Linked DNA regions of Homo sapiens: region 1 is linked to region 2. The links come from fine-mapping of genetic effects on gene expression. A gene starts in region 2. The other region holds a variant in brackets. All regions are shown on one strand. Distances are from middle to middle. Region 1 overlaps PRKAB1-AS1 (PRKAB1, TMEM233 and CCDC60 antisense RNA 1). Region 2 holds the start of PRKAB1-AS1 (PRKAB1, TMEM233 and CCDC60 antisense RNA 1).

The links. PIP is the estimated chance that this variant, and not a neighbour inherited with it, causes the effect.
Region 1: its variant is fine-mapped to the expression of PRKAB1-AS1 in skeletal muscle (GTEx, PIP above 0.99). The same link has a PIP of 0.9 or more in atrial appendage, breast, lung, subcutaneous fat, thyroid and visceral fat.

The regions. Positions count from the first base shown.
Region 1 is chr12:119,557,653-119,569,830 of GRCh38, forward strand. All of the region lies in intron 1 of PRKAB1-AS1 (PRKAB1, TMEM233 and CCDC60 antisense RNA 1), which reads right to left. Among named protein-coding and RNA genes, the nearest start is that of TMEM233, 30 kb to the right of the region's middle. The variant C/T (reference allele first, on the strand shown) is at 5,672.
Region 2 is chr12:119,661,721-119,673,898 of GRCh38, forward strand. It overlaps PRKAB1-AS1 (PRKAB1, TMEM233 and CCDC60 antisense RNA 1), which reads right to left and starts at 6,407. Exons shown (of 3, transcript NR_188494.1): 1 at 6,223-6,407. It overlaps PRKAB1 (protein kinase AMP-activated non-catalytic subunit beta 1), which reads left to right and starts at 6,413. Exons shown (of 7, transcript NM_006253.5): 1 at 6,413-6,683; 2 at 10,581-10,744. The coding sequence starts at 6,525. RefSeq lists enhancers at 3,981-4,125, 6,260-6,669, 7,108-7,743, a cis regulatory region at 4,045-4,062 and a silencer at 5,890-6,159.

The DNA.
Region 1 (12,178 bases), 100 kb before region 2:
CAGAGTATGGAACAAGCCCATCTGTGTCTCAGACCCCCATAGTGGAAACACCTTAATGAGAACTGGCTAACGGTGGTGAGAACTCCTTGTCATCAATGAAGGAGGCATGTCTGGGCCTTACAAGGACATTAAGCAAAGAGGTACTAAAGTCATGAAAAAAAAAATGGCCCTTCTGTCTTGGATAGAGCCTAAAGAAAAATCAGAGCCATCTCTATTCTTATTTGATAGACTTATGTTCTCATTCACATCGTCTCCAGGCTCTATGAATGCTAATTCCAATAGTAATCATTGTTAACATTTATTGGGTGTGTGTTATGTGCCAGGAACCATCATAAGCATTTTATATGCATCAAATTTTTAAAATATGAGGAAGGGGTCATTATCAATACTTTATAATGAGGAAACTGAGGCTCAGAGAGGTGCAGCAATTTGGTTGCAAGTGACAGAGTCTAAACTCAAACTAACTTAGACTAAAGGGGAATTTGTTGCCTTGAGGAATACAATGAAGTGTTGAAACATCAAGCTCTGAAAGGGATAAAGATACAGATGGATCTTTGATGCAACTGGAACCAGGGTTTTTTTTCTCTCTGCTCCTCTCTTCTTCCCTCTGTGCATCAGCCACATCCTGCTGCATGCCAGCTTCTAACACACGTGGCAATGTGGCTTCTCAACTCCCCAGGCTCTCCTCTCTGTTCTGGTTTCAAAAATCCTAGGGCAAAGCTCTGATTGGTCCATCTTGGGTCAGGTGTTCACCTTGAACCAATCAACAGCAACCAAGAGAGCAAGATCATGTGAAAACATGGCAGTTCACTCAAATCACATGGGTTGGAGTCAGGGAAGAAGAAAGAAAATGATTTCCCAAAAAGAAGAATGATATATGTTCCCAGAAGAAAGAGAAAACTACCTATGATAGTCCACTACTTCCAAGAATGAGTGCCAACAAGACTATTAAGTAGGGAGGAAAACTGACTCCTCCTTAAGGTTACACACTCTGAAAGTCCTCCAAAAATTCGAGGTCCAGACCACATATGGCATGCCAACTCAACTGAACATTAATTGACTTTTTACAGTGTACTGGCATTATATTCCAGGCTACCACATAGTATGGTCTCAGTAAATATTTGTTGGATGAATAATGCAAAGATGAATAAGGCAAGGTCCCTCTACTCAAAGAACTTACAGCATAGTAAGTGATGAAGGCAAAGAAACAGCCCAAAAGGGACATAGAACATAGTCTGAGAGCTCAAACAAATGGAAGATCACATGGGTTTGAGAACACATAGGGAGACAATAAGTTAGAAAAGTCATCAAGGAAGGAGGTCCTATTTGAGATCGGCCTTGAAAACAGAATGAGATTTCAATAGACAAAAATGTAAGAAAAGTGTTCCCCAGCAAGAGCAAAGCCATGTGAGCAAAGGCATGGAGGCAGGGATGGACATATCATCCAGGTTTTTTTTTTAATTGTACTAAAATATACATAAAATTTGCCATTTTAATCATTTTTAAGTTGACAATTCAATGGCATTAATTACATTCATATTGCTGTACAACTATCATCACTATCTTGAAACTCTTCCATCTTCCAAAACTCTTCCATCACCCTTGCAGAAACTCTGTACCCATTAAGCAATACCTCCCCATTCCCAGGAACATGGTAATCTCTAATCTACTTTCTGTCTCCTTAAATTTACCTAATCTATGTATTTACTGTAAGTGGAATTATACAACATTGATCACTTTGTGTTTGGCTTATATCATTTAGCATAATGCCTTCAAGTTTCATCCATGCTGAGGGATGTACTGTATCTTCATTCCTTTGTACACCTAAATAATATCCCATCATATGAATATTCCACATTCCCTTTATCGTTTCATTGGTGGATGGACATTTGGTTTGTTTCCACATTTTAGCTATTGTGACTAATGCTGCAGTGAACACTGATGAGCAAGTATCTGTTCAAGTCCTTGTTTTCAATTCTTTTGGTTATCTACCTAGAAGTGAAATTGCTGGGCTGTATAGTAATTCTCTTTAGCTTTTTGAGGAACCATCGTATTGTTTTCTGTAGCGGCTGCAGCATTTTACATTCCCACCAGCAATGTACAAGGGTTTCAATTTCTCTGCATCCTTGCCAACACTTATTATATTCCATTGTTGTTATTGTTGCTTTTAACAGCCATTCTAATAAAGGTGAAGTAGTATCTAGTTGTGGTTTCGATTTGCATTTTTTGTAATGACTAAGGGTATTTAGCATCTTTTCACATGCTTATTCAAGCCATCCAGTTTTACGAGTGCACAACCAACCATCATAAATCCAAGATGTTTAGGTTTCATTGTGTAGGCAGTAGGGAGCCAATGATAGTTTGGAAGCCAAAGAGTGGCATGACCAGAAATATAAAATCTTGGCAGAGGAGTATAAAATGAAGCCAGAGGACTAGTTAAGAGGCTACTTCAATGGTCCAAGCAAGGGACCTGCCACCTCCCAAGCTTGAGCCAGGGAGGTGGTAGTGGCAATGTAAGGAAAGGGACAGTTTCCAGACACATCATCTTTTCAACACAATGGAAGCAACCTATGTGCAATCATAAAGGGCTGGTTATGTAAGCATGGTATAGCCTATGTGATGAATTGCTCTGCATCTGTAAAAATAATGATGCCGATGAATAAATGAAACAGATGTTTCCAAGTAAATGAAAAAAGTAAGGTTACAACACAGCGTGTACATCATGATCCCATTTTTAGATAGATGATGCATAATTAGATCAGAATGCAAAGAGAAGGACAGACACTAAAGGTAAAAAAGACCTTGAACACCACACACGCAAATGTGAACAATGATCACCTCTTGCTAAACTAACCTCCCACCAAGATACTTGTATGTTCTCTTTTATTTTCTTCCTTGCCTTTATCACTATCTGAAAATATCTTATTCATTTGTTCATCTGTTCATAAATTCCAGGAAGGAGGGAGGGTGTCTGTTTTGTTCTCTCTCTATTCCCAGAACCTGGAATCTAGCCACAGGTGAAGCTCCATGGATATTTTTTGATGAAATCTTTTAGTGATGGGATCCATTTTTATTCTCTTACATATATTTTTTAAATGTAAAAAAGGAATCTATGACTTTCGTCATAAAAAAAGTAGCAAAAAGAAGAGACATAAACAGGCATTATTCTCACCACCATCACAATGGCACTGGTTCTTTGATCACAGCTGTTACCCCTAAAAGAACCTCAAAGCCAGATTCTAACACCAGACCCCACTAGCACATCAAAGTGCTTTTCTCAGCCTGTGAACCCACTCACTGCCTCTCTTCCCTTCCTCCAGCTTCCTGGGTATCCACTTCCTCCACCTGTGCCCACTCAGCACAGGATGTTATTAACACCATTGCACCCCCACAGACTTAGGAGCCTAGAATAACCTGCTACCGGTAGGGCAGATACTTGGAAGACTCTTCCAGGAAGAGGAGGTCATCGATCAATGCCCATGCTTGTCCCATCCTCTCTTCTCACCTCCCTTGCACCCAGTCCTGGGGACTTTGGAGTTCATTTTTAAACACCAGAGCTGGCTAACATTGGAGGAGGATACCAGGCTGTGGGCATGGAAAAGTACGAGTGAAGCCAAGAAGCCCAATCAGAAATTCATCTCATAATTTCAGGCATCAGCACCTGGCTGTTAGGCCCAGCGTTTCTTAACCAGAGATTAACCAAGGCTGGGTCTGAATCCCTATGAAGAAAGACATGAGCCACTAATAATAAAGTATCAATGTTTTTAGGTAATTTAATATATTATTTTATTTATTTATTTTTTGAGAAAGAGTCTCGCTCTGTCATTCAGGCTGGAGTACAGTGGCACAATCATAGCTCACTGCAGCCTCCAACTCCTGGGCTCAAGCAATCCTCTTGCCTCAGTCTCCCAAGCAACTAGGACCACAGGTGTACACCACCACACCTGGCTAACTTTTTAAAATGCTTTGTAGAGACAGGGTCTACCTATGTTGCCCAGGCTGGTCTTGAACTTCAGGCCTCAAGCGATCCTCCTGCCTTGGCCTCCCAAAGCACTGGGATTGCAGGCATGAGCCACCGTGACTGACCCTATAATATTTTACTGTATGATATGCTATATAGAGAAAAGTACATGTATTTATATACTACATATATGTGCTATATAAAATGTATTTACAATTTAAATACAGAACATTGTATTTACCATATACATATATATATAGATAGAGGAGGTTCATTCATTTATTCATTTGTGCTGTGAAACTGAATTTTGATATTTTCTACTATCTTGTAGGCTCAAAGTGGGGGACAAACAGGTATTTTAAAGCCACCAGCATTTTTTTCAGCTACTCATCAGACAGAGATTGAGTTCATCACAGTGGTTCTGAAGAGAAGAGGAAGGAAAATTTCTGTTTTGTTTTGGGAGAACACTCTTGGACTCCTGGAGGCATTTCAGTTAAGCAAAGGGTAAACAATCTCCTCTTTTTTTTTTTTTTTTTTTTTGAGATGGAGTCTCGCTCTGTCGCCCAGGCTGAAGTACAGTGGCGCAATGTCAGCTCACTGCAACCTCCACCTCCTGGCTCAAGTGATTCTCGTGTCTCAGCCTCCTGAGTAGCTAGGATTATAGGTGCTCAACATCATGCCTGGCTAAATTTTTGTATTTTTAGTAGATGGGGTTTCACCACGTTGGCCAGCCTGGTCTGGAACTCCTGACCTGAAGCAATTGGCCTACCTCAGCCTCCCAAAATGCTGGGATTACAGGTGTGATCCGCCACACCTGGCTGCAATCTCCTCTTCTGAAAAGGTCATGGAGGGAAGAAATGCATCTCTCTAAAGAATACTTTGTGTGATGGAGAGGAAAGGCTTCTCCTTCTCTCTCTCTGGAACAAAGTGGAAGTTGGGATTTGGAGGAGAGATAGTCAAAGACTCCAACGACATGGGAAACAGGATGAGCCCACGACACCATGGCAGGAGAAAAAGGTTCACCAGTTGGGGTGCTCATGAGCACGATGCATGAGCTCTAAAATATGTGAAGTCCGGGATTTAGGGTCCAGGCTTTCCTATGATGTTTTTCTGCTCTCACCTCCAGATCTCCAGTAAAAGAAATGGGGCTAATTAGGGCAATGAAAGATGTCTAGCAGAGAACTTAGGAGGAGGCTCCCAGAGGAATACTCTTAAAACAGATGTGGGAACATGAAAGCATTCCTCAAGGACCCCCAGAAATGCCCAGGGAGCACTACCTGGTATAAAACTGCAATTCTTTTGGATCAACGCAAAACAGAGCTCAATTATATAACAACTGTAATGGAAGATGACCCATGAAAGCTGGAAAATCCCAAGACATCTGGGTAACAATGAACTCCACAGAAACGACTGAGATCAATTCTGTATTCAGAAATAGAAAGACAATGGTGAGGCTGGGCGCAGTGGCTCAATGCCTGTAATCCCAGCACTTTGGGAGGCCAAGGAGAGTGGATCACAAGGTCAGGAGTTCAAGACCAGCCTGGCCAACATGGTGAAACCCCATCTCTATTAAAAATACAAAAATTAGCCGGGCGTGTTGGTGGACGCCTGTAATCCCAGCTACTGGGGAGGCTGAGACAGGAGAATTGCTTGAAACCGGAAGGCAGAGGTTGCAGTGAGCCGAGATCACCCACTGCACTCCAGCCTGGG[C/T]GAAAGAGCAAAACTCCGTCTCAAAAAAAAAAAAAAAGAGAGAGAAAGACAATGGTGAGCAAGATGGACATGGTCTTGAACCTCACAGATAAATATTCAACAAGTACGTACTTGTGGATTCCAATGGATGTGACAGTCTAGTAAGAGTTTTGGCAAACTTTTTCTGTAAAGGAACAGAAAATAAATATTTGAGACTTTGTGAGTCGTATGGTCTCTGCTGAACTCGGCCATGGTGGTGTGAAAGCAGTCACAGACAATGCATAAACAAACAGGCAATGCTGTGTTCCCATTAAGCTTTATTTAAGGATACTGCAATTTGAATTTCATACAATTTTCACATGTCAGAGACTATTATTCTCTTTTTTAGCTACTTAAAAATGCAAAAATTATTCTTAGTTCTCAGGTCATACAAAAACAGGTGGCAGGATGGATGTGGACCATGGGGTGTGGTTTGGCTACTCCTGGTTGAAGGTTAGGCCTAAGACATACATAATAATAATTAATTAAAAATAAGCCGGGCGCAGTGATTCACACCTGTAATCCTAGCACTTTATGAGGCTGAGGTGGGTGGATCACCTAAGGTCAGGAGTTCGAGACCAGCCTGGCCAACATGGCGAAACCCCGTCTCTACTAAAAATACAAAAATTAGCTGGGCGTGGTGACGGGTGCCTGTAATCCCAGCTACTTGGGAGGCTGAGGCAGAGAATCACTTGAACCAGGGAGGCAGAGATTGCAGTGAGCCGAGATCACACCACTGCACTCCAGCCTGGGCAACAGAGCAAGACTCTATCTCAAAAATAATAATAATAATAATAACAATAAATAAAAATAGCTTATGGTCTTGAGCACAGGTCTAAGTGCCAGGTGCTATGCCAAGTATGCTTTGCTATAATGATATTACACTTATAATTTGGAATTTTTTTTAGAGCTCTGTCACTCAGGCTGGAGTGCAATGGCACAATTAGAGCTCATTATAACCCTGAACTCCTGGGCTCAAGCGATCCTCCCACCTCAGCCTCCTAAGTAGCTGGGGCTACTGGCAGATGCCACCATACCCAGCTGATTTCTTTAAATTTTTTGTAGAGATGAGGTCTGACTATGTTGCCCAGGCTGGTCTTGAACTCCTGGCCTCGAGCAATCCTCCCACCTCAGCCTTCCAAAGCACTGAGATTACAAGCATGAGCCACTGCACCCAGCCTATAAATTGGCTTTCTTCTCAACTTTCTTGAGTGAGAAAGAAGAGAGGGGTATTGCACTAATTTTCCAAGAATTTAGCATAACTGGGTGGTGTCATCCTGTCTCTTCAAAGAAAATGTCAAAATGACTGCCCTGGGCACCTCCTCTCAAGCTCTCCAAATGCCAAGCAAGAAAGGATCATTGGGTCCAATCTTGCCACTCTCTCTATATATATTTTAAAAACTATTTAGTGGCTGGGCACGGTGGCTCACACCTGTAACCCCAGCACTTTGGGAGGCTGAGGCAGGCAGATCACCTGAGGTCCAGAGTTGGAGACCAGCCTGGCCAACATGGTGAAACCCAGTCTCTACTAAAAATACAAAAATTAGGCCGGGCGCGGTGGCTCACACCTGTAATCCCAGCACTTTGGGAGGCCGAGGCGGGTGGATCACGAGGTCAGGAGATCGAGACCATCCTGGCTAACACGGTGAAACCCCGTCTCTACTAAAAAATACAAAAAATTAGCCGGGCGTGGTGGTGGGCGCCTGTAGTCCCAGCTACTTGGGAGGCTGAGGCAGGAGAATGGCGTGAACCCGGGAGGCGGAGCTTGCAGTGAGCCAAGATTGTGCCACTGCACTCAAGCTTGGGCGACAGAGCGAGACTCTGTCTCCAAAAAAAAAAAAATTAGCCAGGCGTGGTGGTGCGTACCTGTAATCCCAGCTACTCAGGAGGCTGAGGTAGGAGAATAGCTTGAACCCAGAAGGTGGAGGTTCCAGTGAGCTGAGATTGCACCACTGCCCTCCAGCCTTGGAGACAGAGTGAGACTCTGTCTCAAAAAAATAAAAATAAATAAATACATATATGTTTTTAAAAACCTATTTAGACAGAATTAACGGAAAATGCACCCAAACATAGCAACCATCCTGCCACCTCTGGTGACTCCATTTACCACCAGTTCCCCTTGCCCCAGTGACCATCTAACTTCTGGTCACAAATTGGCAAAAGGGATCACAGAAAACCAAGTGGCCTTGGGTCACCAGACCATCCTGCCCAACAAGGCAACCTTTGCTAAGAGTGACTCACTGTGGCAGAGAGGCAAGTTTAACAGGCATCTGGGCAGGAAGCACTGCCCTGTTTATTGATGGCAAACTGTTTGCCAGAGTAAGAGCTCTTTGGGGACTTCTGAAGGTGTTTGGCAAGCCCCAGTCCCGAAGGCTACTGTGCGCTAAGAAAGGACCTGTGGGCCTCTGAAAACTCAGCAGCTAAAAGGTCACCGCCCCAGAAGCCTATTAAGGAAACAGCATGAAAAGTTCTCCATCCCAGGAGGATGCATGGGAGCGAGCTACCATGTCTTTTTTTTTTTTTTTTTTTTGAGACCGAGTTTCGCTCTTATTGCCCAGGCTGGAGTGCAGTGTCACGATCTCAGCTCACTGCAACCTCCGCCTCCCAGGTTCAGGCGATTCTCCTGCCTCAACCTTCCTGAGTAGCTGGGATTATAGGCACGCACCACCATGCATGGCTGATTTTGTATTTTTAGTAGAGATGGCGTTTCTCCATGTTGGCCACGCTGGTCTCGAACTCCCAGCCTCAGATGATCCACCCGCCTCAGCCTCCCAAAGTGCTGAGATTACAGGCATGAGCAACCAAGCCCAGCCTACCACGTATCTCTTTAAGAGATGCCCCTCCTCTAGGAGTAAGTCACGCCCTCGACCCCATTCCCTGTAACTTCTCCCTTGGAGAAGTTCTCCCTTAGAGCAATTTGCAAAACTGTAATTCGGTATGTGTGTATATTTTATACCCACACGGCTTCAAGTTCTGTAAGTGTGTTTGCTGTGCTGTAATCCACTTAGCACAGTGCCAGACGCATGATAAAAACCTGTTGACCACATGAGATATCACCTCACACCCATGAGGATGGCTATAGTCAAAAGAAATTGAAAATAACAAATATTAGTGATGATAGGGAGAAACTGGAACCCTTGTGTACCATTGGTGAGAATGTAAAATAGTGTAGCTGTTACAGAAAACAGTATGGCAGTTCTTCAAAACATTAAAAAGAGAGTTGAAAGCACGGCCTCAAAAAGAGACTTGTATACCTATTTTCATAGCATTATTCACAACAGCCAAAAGGTGGAAGCAACCGAACTGTCCACCGACAGCTATTTAGGTTTGTGAAACAAAACCCAATCCAAGCCCACTCAAGCAAAAAAACAAAAATTCATTGGCTCAAATGAAAAAAAAGAAATCCAAAGATAGATGTTTCAGCCATAGCAGGATCCAGGTGTTCAAAATGGAAGATTTCAACACATATCTTGCAGTAACTGAGTCTTTGAACAACACAATTTAAAAATCTGATTTAATAGATATATACAGAACCCAGTACCCAACAATTAGAGAACACACATTCTTCTCAATTACATATGAAACAGTTACAAAAAGTGACCACATTTCAGGCAGTAAAGTGTTTCAACAACTTTCAAAGAATCAATGTCATATAGATTATGATCTCTGATCAGAATGTAATGGAGTCGATAACAAAAAGAAAACAAAAAATGTTGACCTTAGAGAATGTGCTTCTCAATTTTAAAAAGAAGAACATGCTTCTATATAACATGAATCCAAGAAAAATCATAATGAAAATGTACAAATACTTACAATTGAAAATAATGAAAATGCTATAAATTAAAGTTTATGGGATGCATCTAGTGAAGTACTTCAAAAAATGTATATTCTTAAATTTTTATATTAAAAATAAAGGCTAAAAATTAGTGAACTAAGTATCCAGGTTAGGAAGTTATAAATATAACAAAGTAAGCTCAAAGAAAGAAGGAAGGCAATAGTAATAGTAAAAAGAATATAAATTAATAGGCCGGTTGCAGCAGCTCATGCCTGTAATCCCAGCACTTTGGGAGGCCAAGGCAGGTGGATCACCTGAGATCAGGAGTTCAAGACCAACCTGGCCCACCTGGTAAAACCCCATCTCTACTAAAAATACAAAACATTGGCCGGGCATGGTGGCACACACCTGTAATCCTAGCTACTCGGGAGCCTGAGTCAGGAGAATCGCTTGAACCCTTGGAGGTGGAGGTTGCGGTGAGCCAAGATCATGCCATTGTACTCCAGCCTGGGCGACAAGAGCAAAAACTCCATCTCAAAAATATATATATTATATATATATATAAAATATATAATATATATTATAATATATGTATTATATATAATATATATAAATTATATATAATATATAATATATATAAATTATAATATATAATATATATAATATAATATATATTATATATAAATAAATAAATGATTTTTTAAAAAATGAAATGTTGGTTCTTCAAGAAAAAATAATAACAGATGCAGGTCTCTGGTGAGATTGATCTAGTAAAGAGAGAGAAAAAGCACAAATGGAGAATATGTCTAAAAATACGTAAAAGAGAGATTTTAAAAGATAATGAAATACTATGAAAAACTTCATGACAATAAATTTGACAGTTTAGACTACATGGAAAATTATATATGGAAAATTATATATTTTACAAAACTGGCTCAGAAAGAAACAGAAAACAAGAATAGTTCTAAAACGAAGAAAATTTGTCAGTAATTTAAAATATTTCCTCAAAGGAAAGAAAAAGATCTAGATAGAATTGTAAAAACTTACAGCAAATTTTCAAGAAACAGATAATTCCAATTTTATACAAGTGCTTCCGAAGAATTCCTGAGAGGAAATGTACCCGTTAATCTAATATAATTCCGATACCAAAACCAGACAGAAAATGAAAAAGGAAAGTTACAGGATAATCTTGCAAATAAATATATGTGCAAAAATCCTAAATATCGGAAAGCAAAACCTAGCTATATGTTCATGAAATATATCATTCATATATCGTATCGTAAACTATATCATATAATAAAATCCTTCATGGCCAATTTGGCTTATACCATGAACGTAAGATTAGCTTAACCTTTAAAAATCCTTTAATGTAAATTGTCACATTTTCAGATCAAAGGAAAAAAACTATATGATCTTGTCAATGGATGAAGAAAAGGCATTGGATAGAATTCAACATTCATTTGTAATTTGTTTTAAAAAACAGAGCACACTTAGCAAACTAGGAATAGGAGAAAAAAAATAGTTAACTTGATAAACGTGTCTACCTAAAACCTGTAACAGAAATCATAATTGCAGGTAAAATTTAGAAGTATTCCCTTTAGAGGAGGGAACAAAAGAAGGGTGCTCATTCTCACTTCTTCCATTCAAAATTGTACTGGATACCCCAGCCAATGCAATAATACGAGATGAATTAAACCAAGGTAGAATGATTAAAATATGGCAACAAAATGAATTATTTGCAATGAATGTGATTATTCACATAGAAACTGCAAAGACTCTATAAATTATTAGAATAAATTAGGCAATTTAGCAAGGTAATTGAATATAATAGTGATATAAAATTTAACTGTATTTATCTGCATCAACAACAAACAGAAATATAACATTTAAAATACTCAACAGGCCAGGCACAGTGTCTCACGCCTGTAATCCCAGTACTTTGGGAGGCCAAGACGGGCGGATCACTTGAGGTCAGGAGTTCGAGACCAGCCTGGCCAACACGGTGAAACTGCATCTCTACTAAAAATACAAAAATTAGCTGGGCTTGAACCCAGGAGGCAGAGGTTGCAGTGAGCCGAGATCATGCCACTGCACTCCAGCCTGGGTGACAGAGCGAGACTCCTTCTTAAAAAATAATAAATAATAAAATAAAATACTCAATGATGATGGCAAAATAAACTGGTAGCCAGAAATACAGATATTTTAAAAATAAGCAGAGCCTCAAGTGGAAAATTATACAACTATACAACTCCCTTGAAAGACATTAAAGACATATTTATATCAAGAAAGACATTTCTCCCCAAATTGATTATATAAATATTCAGGCAATTTCAAATGAAATTCTAATAAAGTTTTTTGTGAAACTTGAAAAGCTAATTCCAAAAGAGAAAAAAGCCAAAGACAGCCACGACATTTTTTGGAAAAGAAAAAGAAATCAAGACTTACCTTAGAAAACTATAGCAATTAAGATAGTACTTTATTGGTGCAAAAATATTAAAAATAGTTTAATTAAACAGAGTAGAGAGTGCAGACACAGTACTAGACATACGACAAAAGAAATATCACAGGTCACTAGGAAAAGTATACCCCTACTCTATAAACACCACTAGGACAATAAGCTATCTGTAAAAAAATTTTTTTTAATTTGATTTCTACTTCACACTATTAAAAAATACAGCTCCAAATGGATTAAAGACTTAAATGTGAGACCGGGC
Region 2 (12,178 bases):
GGGAGGTGTTTCTGAGTATTTATTTGGAAGGTGCTCCTAAAAAGAGATAAAGAAAAGGAAAGGAAGATAATCAATGAATTCCTTGATCCAATTACTGCTGTGGACATCTAGGGTGCATTTCCACTGGGGACCTCTGAGACACGGTAGGGAATATATCTTAGTTATACGAGAGCTAAAAAGAAATTATTTAGACAGTTAGTGAGGGTAAGAGAGTCCTCAGTAAGGTTTTTCTTTTAATAAAAACGCAGTCTCCAAATCATTTCTTTTTTTAACAAAAAGCAGCCTGAAAAATCAAGCTGCAAGCATAGATAAGCAAGCTAGAGGCTTGCATAGGTAAATACCAGCAGCTGTGCCAATAGAAAACAGATAGCTGGAAACCAGGTATATTCAACATGGAGGTTCCCTCTTCCCTTTTCTTTGTTGCCACGTGTGCAGATAACATGGCACCAGCCAGGTTTTTTAAAATTCCATTTGCATAATAAAAGATTAGAGTGGGATGACCAGCCTCTTCACGGGCTATGAAAATGGCACATCTGGTCCAACCAATCCACTACACCCCATGTAAATCATATACCATCTCCTCACGCTCATCCCTAAAACCAACCACACCTTGCCCCAAACCAGGGAAACCCACTCAGGACCCCTTCTTCTGCATGAGGAAGCTCTCTTCCTTCTTTCATCTATTTAACTTTCCACTCTTAAACCCACTCCTTGCATGGCCATGTCTTCAATTTCCTTAGCATGAGACATCGAACCTCGGGTGTTACCCCAGAAAAATGACGCTGCTTCATTAGAGTTAGCACATCCAAGGGGCAAGGGAACTGGCTCCTCTGTGGTTGGCTGAGGGCTTCTCTCAGGGTGTCTTCTCTGGTCCCCTTGGGTTCCCACTTGTGTCGACAAAGCTTTCTCCAGAAGGCCCTCAGAGTTGCACCTGCTCACAGTTAGGAAGTTTGGGGCATGCGCAGAAGGGCACATGCAGATGGGGTATGATGGTCCCAACAGCATATGTTAAAGTGATTATGAAACTTTGATATTCAAATCCCTGGGAGCTTACATTTTAAAGAGATGAGACAGAGACAGACTTCCTCTCATTGTTTTCACCTCCGTTGGATCTTTGCCTGGATACTGCTTTAGTTTGTCACTTGTCCTCTAGAAAAGGGGTAGAAAGTGTACATCCTTTTCTCCTCCATTCCTTCAAAGCTCTTAAAAGAGGATAGAGATGCCAGGTGCAGTGGCTCACACCTGTAATCCCAGCACTTTGGGAGGCCGAGGAGGGTGGATCACCTGAGGTCAGGAGTTTGAGACCAGCCTGGCCAACATGGTGAAACCCCGTCTCTACTAAAAATACAAAAAGTAGCCAGGCGTGGTGGGGTGCGCCTGTGGTCCCAGCTACTTGGGAGGCTGAGGCAGAAGAATCGCTTGAACCCGGGAGACGGAGGTTGCAGTGAGCCGACATTGCACCACTGCACTCCAGCCTGAGTGAAAAGAGTGAAACTCCATCTCAAAAAAAAAAAAAAAGAGGATAGACTTGAGGTGAACTTTATTAAGAACATTGTGTTACCTTGAACTGGGCACTTCTCCCTTCTAGGTTTCAGCTTACCCTGTGAGTGAAGCTATTTATTTAAAAAAAACTTTATTGAAAATAAAATAAAGATACAGGAAACTACACAAAAGAAATGTATGGCTTAGTAAGTTACTACAAGGCAAACATGTTAATAATTACCAACCCAGGTCAAGAAACAGAATTTTCTCAGACAACCTAAAAGTCACAAAATGAGGCTATTTGCCAATTAAGGTTGTAGACCAAATGCTGTAGAATGAACTTCTTTTAATTCTATGTTGATGACTCTCTGTCACAATATTCACATCTCAGTGCAAAGAGAACACAAGAATGTCTAGCAAGAAAAGATGGACAAGTTTCTCAAACATTGGCAGTGTTACTTACATTGGCTAGGCAAAATTCAGAAGGCCTGGTGGAAATCTGGTTAAGCCCTAAAAGTAAGCTTGTAATTCTATCCTAGCAGCCCACACACATTTGAGTCTGTCTTAGTCAGCTCAGACTGCTATAACAAATCATCAACTGGGTGGCTTAAACAACAGAGATTTACTTCTCCCAGGTCCGAAAGCTGGAAGTCTAATATCAGTGATATAATTTGGATACTTTTCCCCCTAAATCTTACACTGAAATGTAATCCCATGTTGGAGGTGAGGCCTCCAACATGGTGGGAGGTGACTGCATCATGGAGGTGGACTTCTCATGAATAGTGTAGCACCATCGTCTTGGTGCTGCCCTCACAAGATCTGGTTGTTTAAAAGCGTGCGGCACCTCCTCCCACTTTTTTTCTTACTCCCACTCTTGCCATGTGATACATCAATACATCGGCTCCCCCTTGGCTTCCTGAGGCCTCACCAGAAGCAAGCAGATACCCAGAGCCATGCTTGCTGTACAGCCTACAGAACCATAAGCCAAGTAAACCTCTTTTCTTTATAACTTACTCAACCTCAAATATTTCTTTATAGCAATACAAGAATGGCCTAATACAATCAGGGTGCCAGGATGGTTGATGTGTGGTGAGGGCTCTTTCCCTGAGTTGCAGATGGCCGCCTTCTTGCTTTGTCATCACATGGCCTTTCCATTGAGCATGGGCGTGAATAGACAGCATGCGAGCAAGCTCTCCAGCGTCTCTTCTTCCCATAAGTACCCTGATCTCATCATGGGGGCCCCACTCTCATGAGCTCATCTAACCCTAATTACCCCTTGAAGGCCCCACCTCCAAACATTATAAAATTGGGAGTGGGAGTGCAAATGTATGAATTTTGGGGGGATACAATTTAGTCTACAGCATAGTCCAAATGTGAAATTTCTTCCTCCAGCTACCGATGTTTAGTGAGAACACTGCCTGTTCTCACCACATGTGCATATGTGTGTGGACTCTTTCCTCTGGAGGGCAAGAACTTGGTTTTGTTCACTGTTGTAACCAAGAGTTACAACAGTGCCTGGCTCATAATTGGCACTCAATATTGCCATTGAGTTATTTGTGATCAGAGCCCTGGCTGTTCTTAGATGGGGAGGGTTCTTCAGAACAGTACAAATGTTTGTAGACAGGCCAGCTGGGGAACCAAAGGTCTTTTTGATGAGGTGCCATGACCATGATGTAGTGGGGAGTGGCCAGGTGATCCAGAATTCAGTCTCAGTATGACCTATGATCATCTGAGTGACCTCAGGCAAAACTGTTCGATCTCTGGGACTTAGACTCTTCCTTATATAAAACAAATGGGTTGGTCAGTTCAGAAGTGCTATACTGATTCTAATCCATCCTATGGAGGAGGCCCCAAAACATTATCCTTAACCCTTTTAATCATAAATTTAAGGATAAATGAGATTTTATCTCACTCTGGGTGACTTTTAAGGACTTGAAAACCTACTTCTTTTTGTGCTTGGAGCTGGAGTGAATTTGAAGCCAGGGTTGCGGGGGTGGGGGAGGGGTACTCCTAGCTGTGGCTGTGTTAAAATTGCCCTGGTTTGTTTGGGGGAGAATCTAGGGTATTTATCATTTGTCTTTGCCCTGGTGCCAGACAGACAGCAGTGAGTAGATGATGCCTTTTACACAGCAATGTGCTAACAGTTATACTTCCTGGCACACCTCCAGCCCCCAAGATGGAATGGTCTGACATCCATATCAGCAGAGAATCAGAGAAAGATGAGACGCTCTGATGCTTAGGAAAGTCACAAACCATTGTTACACAGATAAGTAACACAAAATGACCCAAGAGAGACACAGCTGGGACCCAAGTAGACACTTGTAATTGGCGAGTCTACCCTACCCATGATTTTCAATATGGGGTCAATAGCTGATAGATACCAATGTTAGTTTCTTTGTCATGAAATCTTGATACAATGTGGTAAGAGTTTCCAATCAGCAGTTGGTGGCATCCTCAGGATATTGTTGATTGTATTTGACATCAAGGGCCACCCATGCTTTCACTGTTATCTTATTCAAGCTAGTGCAGATGTCTTAAAACTTTCTTCATGCATCAAAGCATCTGCATAGCTCAGATAAAGAATCCACAGCTCATGTGTTCTTTCTTATCTCTCCGGCTGTTTGGGAGAGATTTCAAAACTCAACACCCCACTGTCTCATGTAACCAAGTCAGGGCCACTATTAGAAAAGCAGCTCAAAGAAGATATCCTGGGTCATCCACAGTATCTTAGCTTATTTAATTCAGCAAGCACATTCAACATTTCTGATTATACTGAATACATTCAAATTCTCAGTCATCAGCTTCAGGAAGACCCTCCTGGCTCCCATCCCTTTTCCTGGCTCCCATCCCTTTTCCTGGCCTGGCTTAAGTCCCTTCTGGGCTCCCACAGGATCCCTTACCTAGCTATATTATTGCTTTTCTGTGGGTCGGTGCCAGCCTGTACTGTATTAATTCCTTTGGGGCTGGAACCATATCTTATTTTTTTAAATTAAAAAGTAGTACATCCTCACAATAGAAAACTTTTCAAATACAGAACTATATAAATGAAAAGTGAAAGTCCCTTTTCTGTCTGCTCCTATTTGCAATCTCCCTCCTCTCCCCACAGAAGACCACTATTAACAATGTGTTGTATACCCTTCCAGAACTTTCCATTTGCTAGCCTAATAGTGCTAATAAAAGTGTTAACAGTTATTGAGTGTTTACTAAGAGTCAAGTGCTATGCTCAGCATTTTTATGCACGTTCCCAATTAATTCACAAAACAAGCCTATGAAGTAGGTGTTATTTTTGTTCCCATTTCACAAAAGAAGAGACTAAGGTGACAGTTACTAAATGGTAAAGCCAGAATCTGAACATGGCCAGGCTGAATTCAGAGCTCCTGCCCTTGAACTTGTTCTCTCACTTGCTTCCGGACCTTGCAATATCATAGACACTTCCCCATAGTGACCTAAAAATGGTTTCTCCCTTTTTAAAAGTTGCTTGGTATTCTACAAAATGAATGTATTCCATTCATTTTGCCATTCTCCTACTGAACAACTTTTAGGATTTTGTAGTTTTTCATTTCCTTATTTCACCAAGTGTAAGATTCCATTATTGTAAAAAGCATCCAGTTTCAGAAATTAAAATATATGGGGGCATGGGGGGTGACAAGTGCATCTTAGAATATATTTTTGCATGTAAATATTTTGTAGATAATGCTTGTAAATAATTTTCATGTGTGTATTTCTGCACAAGTTTCCTAGGAGTAAAATTGTGTGTCAAAATGAAGGTGCATTTTTAAATTTTGATGCATACTGCTGAATTCCCCCCAGGAAACCTTATCTTAGTCATCTTGTGTTCCTCATTTCCTTAGCACAATGTCTGGTACTTTTTTAGGTACTAAATAAATGTTCAGTGGGTGAAATGCATGACCTGACCCGGCAAATGCAAAGTATTTTGAGATATTCACACACCAAAAAACCCACAAAATATGACAATGACTGACAATGAGAAGATGAGAATATTTTACTACCGTATTTGTATGCACTTCTTGTTGAAGCACTGACCAGAGTAAATGACAAACGCTAATGCATCTTATGCAGAAGGATGTTTCCGAAGTGATTACAAGATATCTTGCAAAATTACCTATCAAAAGATTGCACACTCAATAAAAATACACGAATAACTCCAGCATTTTACAACCCCCAACCTACTAGACATAAGAAATTTCCAGAGATCTTATGGTCTGCCATTTTTTCAAATACCTGCAAGACTGCCTGCACCCCCGACCCTAATCTGTAGAAATCATGATTCTGCAGGTCTGCAGTGGGGGATGCATTTAACAAGCGCTCCAGGTTAACCTAATGCACTGTAAAGCGTGAGAACACGTGCATTAAAAGGGCTTTAAGAAGTGGAGTTTCTGAATCAGATTTGCATTTTAGAAAGATCCCTCTGGCTGCAGAGTGTAGAATCAACTATAAGTGAGCAAAGATAGCTAAATGGCATTATTCAGCCCAGCGCATGAACGGCTCAGATTGCCCGCGCGCTGGGGTGCCCCCTGCCGGCCCTCGGCAGCGCCTCGTCCTGGGCCTGGCCCTGGGCGGCCGGCTGCTGACTGCGACTGCGCGCTCCGAGGCCTGCAGAGACGGCCCGGGGCACCTGTTACCGCACCGCTCAAGACCGGAAGCGGAAATGGAATCGAGATAGCCTCGCGCGTTTAGCTGGCCGCCGCCACCTCCACGCCCTAGGCCGGGCCGACTTACGGAGTCGCCGGAAGCGGAAGTCGCTGAGGGGTGGTGAAGCGGTTGGGAAAGTGTCGGTTTATCTTCGCGCCCCTTGCGTTCTTGCCGCGGCTTGCCTGGGCAGGTAAAGCGCGATTGCGAGAGCTCGGCAACCCTGCCGACTCAGCCGGAACCGGCTCCCGGCCCGAGGGGCGTGGTGTCCTGGTGCTCCGACTCCTTCCGCAGGCTCCTTGGGACCCGCGGTTCCGGGAGTCCCTTGCTCAGGGTCCCTTTCCTGCAGTGAGGCGCCGTCCGCCTTCCCTGTGTCCCCGCAGACCCCCATCATGGGCAATACCAGCAGTGAGCGCGCCGCGCTGGAGCGGCATGGTGGCCATAAGACGCCCCGGAGGGACAGCTCGGGGGGCACCAAGGACGGGGACAGGCCCAAGATCCTGATGGACAGCCCCGAAGACGCCGACCTCTTCCACTCCGAGGAAATCAAGGTGCGAGCGGTGTGGAGGAACCCGATTCCCCTTGACTAATGTTGAGGAGAGGAACCCTCCACTAGATTCCCGTCACATCCTTTCGAAAAACACCAGAACGGAGAGGGAGGTGGTACATTACCCGGTGCACTTAAAAGCCAGATGGTCCTGTAAGAGTTCTCTTAGCGGTCCAAGAACCTGTGTCTAATTACCAATATGAGAAAGTCACCCTGAGGGAGGAGGTGCTCACTTGGTTTAACATCATTAAGGAGAAAGCAGCTCTGGGACAGAGTTTCAAATTCTTAATTAATTCAGAGTCGAGCTAACAGTAATTGAGCCCCAGCTTCTGCTTTTCTCTTAGGTGTAATTAATTGCACTGCTTTGAGACAAATTCCCTCACCTTTACACAAACTGGAGCTTTTGTAAAAGTTAGTTTGGGAATTTATCCATTTTGGAGGCAAACCAGGTACATATACAAGCTGAAAGTAGAGCGGAACAGCTGACGGCAGTTGCCAGAGGTGTTTAGTTCTGCCCAACACTTTTGATTCACCCTACTTATTTTTTAAAAGACGGTGGTCTCACTAATTAGCCGGGCGTGGTGGCGGGCGCCTGTGGTCCCAGCTACTCGGGAGGCTGAGGCAGGAGAATGGCGTGAACCCGGGAGGCGCAGCTTGCAGTGAGCCGAGGTCGCGCCACTGCACTCCAGCCTGGGCGACAGAGCTAGACTTCGTCTCAAAAAAAAAATATAAATAAAAATAAAAAAGACGGTGGTCTCACAATGTTCTCCAGGCTGGTCTCGAACTCCCGGGTTCAAGCAATCTTTATGCCTTGGCCTCCCAAAGTGCTGGGATCGCAGGCGTGAGCTACGGTGCTGGCCGGTTCAGCCTACTTTTTTTTTTTTTTGAGACCGAGTCTCGCTCTGTCGCCCAGGCTGGAGTGCAGTGGCGCGATCTCGGCTCACTGCAAGCTCCGCCTCCTAGGTTCACGCCATTCTCCTGCCTCAGCCTCCCGAGTAGCTGGGACGACAGGCACCCGCCACCACGCCCGGCTAATTTTTTATATTTTTAGTAGAGACGGGGTTTCACCGTGTTAGCCAGGATGGTCTCCATCTCCTGACCTCAGGAGATCCGCCTGCCTCGGCCTCCCAAAGTGCTGGGATTACAGGCGTGAGCCACTGAACCCACCCTACTTATTTTTTTTTTTTCCTTCTTTGAGATGGAGTCTCACTCTGTTGCCCAGGCTGGAGGGCAGTAGCACAATCTCGGGGCACTGCAACCTTCGTCTCCCGGACTCAAACCATCCTGCCTCAGCCTCCCGAGTAGCTGGGACTACAGGCGTGTGCCACCATGCCTGGCTAATTTTGTGTATTTTTGGTAGAGGTGGGGTTTCGCCATGTTGCCCAGGTTGGTCTTGAACTCCTGACCTCAAGTGATCCGCCCGCCTGGGCCGCCCAAAGTGCTGCGATTACAGGCATGAGCCACCACTCCCGGCCTCACCCTGCTTTTTTTTAAAGCGTACATAGAAAAGTCTTTCAGCTTCTAGAGGTCAGTGGGCGGTGAGGGTCTGTCTGAAGGAGGCAGCCAGCAGCTACTGAACTTCTCTCTAGTGTTGTTTAAATATGACTTAATCGTGCTTAAGCAGGCCAGTGCAAACATTTTTCTTCCTGCTGCAGCCTGTTTAAATTCAAAAACTCAGGTGACTTAACTCCTGCTTCAACCACACTCCTGTTAACCACCTTCATATGGTGGATATTTCCAGCCGCAGGGCTCAGTCCAAGGACACTTAGTGATTCTGGCAGCTGGTATTTATGTGTTATGTCCAAAAGGAACTAATTGTTTCAAGGAACAAAGTAGGTTTAGGAAAGATAAAGCTGCCCTCTGCCCAACATACCCTGTTAGTATCCAATTTCATGTTAATCATCATCCATTTAATTGCTTGGCAGCTCATTCCATCTGTGTTTGTCCTCATGTTGAGCGAGGTGATCACATCTCACACCTTCTTTTGGATCTTAGTTTTGAGCCTGACTACAAAGAGGCTGCTTTTATGTGGCCCTACAACCTGTGGTTTGAACTTGCTCTCTGAATTTGTTGCATTCTTGAAGAGCTGTGTGCAAAGTGAACTTTAGAATCATGTTTCTCTAATGACTTGACGTCCTTTCCCCAGGAGGTAATTTTGGTCCCTGGTCCCAAGAAGGCTATTTAAGACACCAAAGGAATCAAAACTACTTTCTTCAGAAGTATTTGTTCTGTTACTATTCCAAAACTCCTCCAGGAAATGTTGAGCACACACATCATCTATGGGGAATGATTTCAAGCAGCGTCCATTCTCACTTCATTAGAAGTTACTGAAATCCCCAGATACCAAAAAAGTCGTGAATTCTTTTAACTACACTAGGGTGCTATTTTGGTCATAATTAGTTATCCTTAGTGTGAAGTGATTCCAGTCTGTTATTTAATATGTAGATCTTGTTAGAATTCAAAGAATACAGGCATCATTTGGATAAGCTGAGGTCGGTATTTGAGATGAAGGTGCTAGAAGCCTGCTTAACTCCCTGAAGAGTCTTTTCCAGCCTGAACCTTCTGCTCTTTTTAAGTCTTTGGCTTCTGACTGGGAAAAAATCTAAAAGGTGCATGACTACATATGTCATCCAGATAGATTTGGATGAGTTTATTTCTTATTCTGGAATACCTCAGTTATACGGAGCTTACCACACTGGAGGTTATCATTTATCCTAATGAGGGTTCAGTCTTTGTCTTGCTTTATTCCCCAGTCCCTAGACAGAACTTTGTGAGTAGTTTTTCCCTTCCTCAAAATCTGGATTTGCCTATTTTCAAGTTGACAGCTCTAGAATTGTTCCTCTTAAATTTTCATGTACAGTCATACATCACTTAATGACAGGGACATATTCTGAGAAATACATCATTAGGTGATTTTATCATTGTGTGAACATCATAGAGTGTACTTACACAAACCTAGTCTGTTCTCATGCTACTATGTAGAAATACCCGAGACTGGGTAATTTATAAAGAAAAGAGGTTTAATTGACTCAGTTCCGCATGGCTGGGGAGGCCTTAGGAAACTTACAATCATGGTAAAAGGCACCTCTTCACAGGACGGCAGAAGAGAATGAGAGCAAGCAGGGGAAATGCCAGATGCTTATAAAACCATCAGATCTCATGAGACTCACTCACTGTCAGAGAACAGCATGGGGAAACCGCCCCCATGATCGATACCTCCACCTGGTCCTGCCCTTGACACGTGGGGATTATGGGGATTACAATTCAAGGTGAGATTTGGGTGGGGACGCAGAGCCAAACCGTATCACCTAGTCTATATGGTGTAACCTGTTGCTTATGGACTATAAACCTGTACAGCATGTTATTCTACTGAATACTGTAGACACTTATTCCACAAGTATATTTAAGGATTTGTGTACTTAAATGTATCTAAACATAGAAAAGATAACAATAAAAATATGGTATAATCTTATGGGACTACCATATACACAGTCCGTCGTTGACTAAGACATCATGCACATGACTGTACTTCAAATCTTGCTTGATTAAGGGAGGAACATGACATTAAGCTAGTCTTGGATTCGTAGTAGCCCCTTCCAAGTGTGTTTCATAGCTTCTTCTAGAATTTTGATGTCAACTTCTTTAATGACAACAATAGCTAATAATTAGCACTCACTGTGTCAGACACTATATAGAGCACTTACATGGACTGTCTCAGTCTTCACAACCTTAAAAAATATATTTCTATTTTGCAGGCAAGGAAACTGAGGCACCACTAGTAAGTTTCCGATCCTAACCATGAACCAAGATAGTAACAGCTGCGTCTTTAGAATGAATTGTCAATATTGTCTGTTGTAGGGAGCTCGCTTATGGCTTTCTGAGTAAACTGCTCTGCTTCTAGGCACCAGAGAAGGAGGAATTCCTGGCCTGGCAGCATGATCTGGAAGTGAATGATAAAGCTCCCGCCCAGGCTCGGCCAACGGTGTTTCGATGGACGGGGGGCGGAAAGGAAGTTTACTTATCTGGGTCCTTCAACAACTGGAGTAAACTTCCCCTCACCAGAAGGTAATTGCCTGGGGAGTGTTCACATATTTGTCTTAACATAAATTCTCTTCTTTCTAAAACATCTCTGAGAGAGAACAGAAAATGGATGTTTCTATAAAATGGATGCCTAGTGGAAAAATAATTTTGCTTAATAAGTCTTAAGGTTCAAATGTTAAACCTTGGTGGTCTCTAGGTTTAGAGTACAGAAGAAAGAGAATATTTCTGTGTCACAGACATCTTTCACTTCAGATCCTCAGCTATCTGTTCGGTCAGGACTTTTCCACAGAAACACAAAAATCTGTCTTAATGCAGTAAGGGAGCACTGGGCTGGAATCTTAGAAACCCACATTTGAGCCCACATTGGCCATGCTGTCAGTCACCTAACGTTAGTTAACCTGAGCCTCAGCGTTCGTTTCTGTAAAGAGGGAATATTGGACCAGATCATCTCTGAGGTTTCATCTAACTTTGACTCTGCGTAATACTTTGTTTGAAAAGTACATGTTGGCTGGGCATGGGGGCTCATGCCTATGATCTCAGCACTTTTGGGGGCTGAGGCAGGAGGATTGCTTGAGGCTAGGAGTTCAAGACCAGCCTGGGCAACATAGTGAGACCCCCATCTCTACAAAAAAATTAAAAATTAGCTGGACATGGTGGTGCACACCTGTATCCCCAGCTACTCGGGAGGCTGAGATGGGAGGATTGTTTGAGCCTGAGAGGTCAGTGCTGTAGTGAGCAGTGGTTGCACCACTGCACTCCAGCCTGGGCAACAGAGCAAGACTTTGTCTCCAAAAAGAAAAGAAAAATACATGCTATGTAGGTGTCATTAGCAAGGATTATAGTAAGACATTTTATCAGGAACCCCAGCATGGACTTCTGTCTTAAGTTGTCAGTGAGAGAACACCTTTAGTGAGTATTCTTGATAAAATGAGGGAGAAAGTGTCAGGCCTATTGTCAGGGGCTGCCTGCTTTCCAGCGTTTCCATTGGAGAAGGAGGGAGCCACTCAGCACAGCAGTCACAGGTCAGTTCAAGCCAGGGGACAAAACAACCCAGTGAAGGGGCTCTTCCGGAGTTTGGTTTTTCAGTCATTAGGCAAGTTTCTTTAGAGAACATTTGAGCTTCCTATTCAATTGATCCCTTCTCCTGCCCAAGGCAAAGTGACAAAGGGTAAAACGAGGCAGCTTCTGTTTATCTTGTGTTGTCATCCTCCTTGGCATCCAGGAGCCTTGCGAGCTTGAGACGCACAAATGCCTGACTGTTGACCTTTTAACATTAGGGATGTGGTTTCCTGGTATTTGAGTAAGGTGAGTTTTCAGGAAACTGTGTCGCACTGCTGCTTCCTTATAGCCTTTTCAGATTGAGGTCATTATGCTGAATTGTCTAAATGGGCTAAAAATGTTTGTTCTCCTGCAGCTGAACTCTTGGTTTTATGTGGAAACGTTTTGTTCTGTAGCTGG